Linked DNA regions of Homo sapiens: region 1 is linked to region 2. Evidence: fine-mapped expression QTL. A gene starts in region 2. The other region holds a variant in brackets. All regions are shown on one strand. Distances are from middle to middle. Region 1 overlaps FASTKD1 (FAST kinase domains 1). Region 2 holds the start of FASTKD1 (FAST kinase domains 1).

Region 1 (3,040 bases), 42 kb before region 2:
ATGAAATTAGTTTACATAAGGATAGCCTGTGAACCTCTACTGGAAGCCAAGTGGGTCCTTCTGACATTGCCTAGAATACTTTTTTCTGCTCCTTTCATCCTCCTTTTCCTACAATACCAATGATGGACATTTTTTCCTACATAGTCTTCTATATTCATACCTAGTTGTTTCCTCTGATAACTCTATCCATCTCTACAGTGCCTCTCTCCTTTGTAAGATATAGAAATCATAAGATATGGATATTCTAAAGACAATAAAATAAATGACAACTTTTATTTATTTATTTTTATGAGACAGGGTCTTGCTCTGTCACCCAGGCTGGAGTGCAGTGGGATGATCACGGCTCACTGCAGCCTCAATCTCCTAGGATCAAGCAATCCTCCCACCTCAGCCACCCAAGTAGCTACAGGCATGAGCTATTGTATCTGGCCTGTTTGAGTGATACATTTTAAAAAATATATTTAAAAAGGTAATTCTGGAACTTTCACATTAAAAGGAAGCACATGTACAGCTAGTGTCTCTGGGCTTTTTAGAGGCTGAATTACATGAGTATTTCATACCTGAATTACACGATACCCCAGAATTTCCAAATGTCGTTTTTTCATAGCAGATTTTCCTTTCATGTGAGGGATATTTCTACAAAGTGCTTTTGAATCCAAAAATTCCAAAGCAATCCTACATAAAATAAAAAAATATTTACTCCTAAAATCAGAATAAGAAACTGAATAATTACAAGCTTTTCAGAAACAAGATTGCATCTTTATAAACTAACAAAAGCCAATGAATATAAATGAGTATATCAAGTTATGTTTCTACTAAGAAATTAGTAATTGATGACAAACCTATTTAGTTACACAAAATTATTGTAAATATTTGTCTGCTTTCATCCATTTTTTTGGTCCAATATATATTTACACATGCCTACTACATGTAAACCACTGTGAGGGGTACAAATATGAAGCAACACAGCTTATAGTCTAACAGAGAACACATGATGTATAGTAAGTTACTGTAATGCAGTGTAGGAAGTGGCTAAGTGCTATGAGAAAAGTAGAGAGGTATGGGAGCGCAAAAGAAGATACTATTTTACTTCCAGTGGAGGACAATTCTTTTAGCACTTTAGTTAGGGAGATTGCTAGGCTTTGGACAGAAGAAGGGAGAACATTAAAGCAGAAAGGAGAGGAAAAGCAAAGTTACAAAGGTGGAATGCATGACATATGAGGAACAGATTCCACTA[C/G]CTTCAATCCTTGATCACTGACTTCAGTATAGTACACCAAATTTAACATTTAGATATTAATACAATCTAAAACTAAGAAATAAATTACCTTTCAGCCCCTGGTGGCAGCCTTGATCCAACTATTTCGATATTTGATTCCCAGGGCATTTCTGGTAGTTGTCCCAATGCTATATTATGGCTTCCATACGGAAGAGGTTTTTTTCTTTTATCCAAGATACACTCAAAATCTTAAGGAAGCATAGAAACTGGTAGTATGAATTAGGTAAAGTCTTACAGATAAAAGTTTAAGATATATTTGAAATATATATGCATATAATATTTGTACACACACACACTCACAAAAGAATGACGAACCTCTCAGATTATCCAAGTTATTTTTATAAGATCTGGTCCAATGGCACCTCTCTTTGGAAATCAATCAATAAAAAAATCAACCAGAAGAATTACAAAACAATATTAAGTACTAGGCTACATTTAGCGCTGGGCTAGGCCAAATCACATTAAAGAGTTTCAATCTCTTTAAGGCTCTTGATTACATTTGGAGAAAGCTAAACCAACTCATCTGAAAATTAATAAAGAAAAAGATACAAGCATTTATCCTGTCTTTTCTACATGAATTGTACATAAGAGTAACTAAACAGTTGATATGGGAAAGTCCTTTTTAGACAAATTCCAGCTAATAAATGTAGAAGGCATGATAGATGTAGAATATCGCTACTTTACCACCCCTCTGAATGATGGATTTAGGCAATGAGTGATCATTAATAACTGCTAAAATCAGCAGGTGAAAAGCTGACAGGGGAACTTTCTGTTGAATGAATCAGCTGACAACATACGAACCCACTGATGAGTCTTAATGTATAAAAGACAACCAGGCCAGGCACAGTGGCTCACACCTGTAATCCCAGCATTTTGGGAGGCCGAGGCAGGCAGATTGCTTGAGCTCAGGAGTTCCAGACCAGCCTGGGCAACATGGCAAAACCCAATCTCTACAAAAAACTTAAAAAATAAGCCAGGTGTAGTGGTAGCTACTCCGGCTGAGGAGGCTGAGGTGGGCGGATCCCTTGAACCTAGGAGGTCAAGGCTGCAGTAAGCCATGCTTGTGCCACTGCACCTCAGCCTAGGCAGCAGAGCCAGACAAAAAAAAAAAAAAGGAAAGAAAGAAAAAGAAAAAGACAACCAGCCTTGTGTGCCTCCTGAGAGGATGCAGAAAGAAGTACAAGCCACTTATGAAGTTTTTGGCCAAAAAGAAAAACCTAAAAAAAAAACCTAAAATCTAATCAAATCTCTAGATATCACTAATGGTTTACAGCAAACCCAGGTTTACAGTAAAAACATTAAAAACTATCAGATGACATTTTAAATGTTATCACAGGGCTGCAATTAGAAAAGTTCGAAATGTGGAAAAAAAAAACTTATTCTCAAATTTTAAGTTAAAAAAAGAAGTAGGAAAGGAAAAGTTGAACCAAAAACTGCAAACCAACCAAGTGGAATGTTAAGATCCCAATTTGGACAAACTATAAAATAAACATAAAAGACACTTAAAACAGGAAAAGCAAAGGTATAGGGGTGCAGTGCATGAGACGTATGAGGAATAGGTTCCACTGCCTTCAATCCTTCACCATTGAGTTCATTATAGTAGGCCAAATCTAACATTTCGATAAAATGTTAAATTTTATCTAAAATTTCCCATATCTCCCTACTTATGTTACATTTCCCATAATTCCCATAAATGTTCAATTTTATCTAAAATTTCCCATATCTCTCTACTTATGTGACATTTCCCATAATTCTACTACCTTC
Region 2 (2,500 bases):
AGTTTCTAAAAAGTGTAGGCATTAATTCAGAGCCATATATATTTATACATACATATATATATACTTTTTTTTTTTAATTTTTCAGAAGTATGGTCTCAGGTTTATTTGCTTTCAGGATAATTTCTTGCCCCTTTTTCTTGTGCCCTTAAAGAGCTCAAATAATTCCTTTCTTTAGAAAATAAATAAATAAAAGAAGTCATATAATTTAATCATTACTGGCCTTGGATAGGTTTTAACCAATGAACGACACAATTAAAGCACCAATCAAGAAATACTAAGAAATTAAGTAATGTTTCAAGTCATGCTGAAACAATAAAAGAACTAAAGATAATTATGAAAAAAGAATAATTTGTTTTAAAAATATGCTATAAATGTTTACATTTATAATTGAGAAGTAATGGTTAGAAAAGCAGGGACTAAAGTCATATAATCTAATATTTCTGCAACATGTTACCATTTACAAAGAACGTTTGAAACACATTATCTCATTAAATTCTCTCAGCTAACCTTCCAGGTTGATATTATTTCCATTTTACAGATAAGGCAAAATAGGTTCAAAAAGGTTTAAAAAATCCTTCTAGTACTAGTGAAGCAGGGACTACAACTCAGTTCTTTCCACTTGAACAGCTTCATTACACAAACAAATCAACGCTGTATCACTAAATTCATGTCTCAGACCCCTCTCTACGGCTATGCCAAACAGTCTGTTCACAAGAAAAAACGACGCGACAGTACAGGCTATTTTGTGGCAAGCAGTACAGCATCCTGACCTAAGCTGACCTGGGTCACAAACCTGCACAAGAAAACCCTGCACAAATCAAAGGTATCCTCAAGATACTATATTCATCCACTGAGCTGCTCAAAGTGGAGGCAGCTCAATGGTTAGCATAGAAAGGTGTCGAGTCCCCAGCTTTGCCCCAGCTGAATGACCTTAAGGAAGGAACTTAACTACAGGAAGGGCCTTGGGACCCTAAGGGGTATCTTCTGCGCCGGGCATAAAGGAGAGCTAAACAAATGAGTGAATGAATGGGGTCTCAGCCCTGCCCTAGTCCATCCGCACTTCAGAGAACCCAATATCCCGAAGGAAGCCTCCGTATCTCAACTGAACCCTATGTCCCCAGCCCGAAAACGTGCTGGGTGGGAAAAGAAAAATAGCCGCTGCCACACAGTCCCGACTTGCCAGCAAGGTTTTCCCTCAGCGCGCCGCAAATTTTCTGGAGGATCCTGGGGTTATGAAAGCTCAGAAGTCAGGGTTATTCCTGGTCCCAACACGGAACGAAACAGGCTCGGATGTCTCGCCCAACCCTCATATCTCAGGGTTTATAACCTTTCTTCGAGAGACATGACCTTTCCCATGAGACCTTGCCCCCAAACCAGGAAAAAATGCCCGGCAGGCGCAGCGTGCACTGCGGAAGTCACGCACTACATATCCCAGGGTGGGTCGCGGCGAGGTGGGTGAAATGGACGTCGCTCACGCATTTTGGGGGAATTCTGGGCATTGTAGTTCCTCATTGAGGGAGGCTCTAGCGCAGTACACAGCTTAAGCTGTTGAAGAAGATATAGGTCGTTTAGGTGATTCTCTACTATCTAAGGTTGTTCTCCTAGTCCTTGGAAGTCTACTACTTTTATAATATACACAAAAATATACTTAGGAAAATGAAATTTAAAAATGTAAACATGGAAAAGACACGTACAGATTTTTCTTATTATTTTTTAGCATATACGAAATAACTCTGTCGAGTAACTTTGAAAGTATGCAAACTCATACTCTCAGTTTCTGCACTTATGTCGTGGATAGGTACCAGTTCTCAGACCATATTTTTTTTTTACTTACCATGGTATTTTAATAGTCCCAAGATTTGACACTTGACACTTAAAAAAAAAATACCACTAATAAATAACCAAAGTGGAATGCTTACCAAAGTTACAACAGACATAATTTTCAGCTGATAATCACTACAACAAAGTAAGGCTCTAAAGGTACCAAACTGATATTTGTTGGAATATGCTGTGCAACTTTCTTTTTTTTATTTTATTTATTTATTTTTTTTATTGATCATTCTTGGGTGTTTCTCGCAGAGGGGGATTTGGCAGGGTCGTAGGACAATAGTGGAGGGAAGGTCAGCAGATAAACAAGTGAACAAAGGTCTCTGGTTTTCCTAGGCAGAGGACCCTGCGGCCTTCTGCAGTGTTTGTGTCCCTGAGTACTTGAGATTAGGGAGTGGTGATGACTCTTAAGGAGCATGCTGCCTTCAACCATCTGTTTAACAAAGCACATCTTGCACCGCCCTTAATCCATTTAACCCTGAGTGGACACAGCACATGTTTCAGAGAGCACAGGGTTGGGGGTAAGGTCATAGATCAACAGGATAAGAATTTTTCTTAGTACAGAACAAAATGAAAAGTCTCCCATGTCTACTTCTTTCTACACAGACACAGCAACTTTCCGATTTCTCAATCTTTTCCCCACCTTTCCCCCTTTTCTATTCCATAAAACCGC

Evidence for each region. PIP is the estimated chance that this variant, and not a neighbour inherited with it, causes the effect. A credible set is the group of variants that fine-mapping cannot tell apart.
Region 1: its variant is the best candidate, but not a certain one, in a credible set for the expression of FASTKD1 in whole blood (TOPMed, PIP 0.63).

What each region holds. Positions count from the first base shown.
Region 1 is chr2:169,530,027-169,533,066 of GRCh38, forward strand. FASTKD1 (FAST kinase domains 1) reads right to left here. Exons shown (of 15, transcript NM_024622.6): 13 at 1,326-1,464; 14 at 561-675. Among named protein-coding and RNA genes, the nearest start is that of KLHL41, 22 kb to the left of the region's middle. The variant C/G (reference allele first, on the strand shown) is at 1,238.
Region 2 is chr2:169,572,489-169,574,988 of GRCh38, forward strand. It overlaps FASTKD1 (FAST kinase domains 1), which reads right to left and starts at 1,377. Exons shown (of 15, transcript NM_024622.6): 1 at 1,181-1,377. RefSeq lists enhancers at 959-1,128, 984-1,586, 1,489-1,588.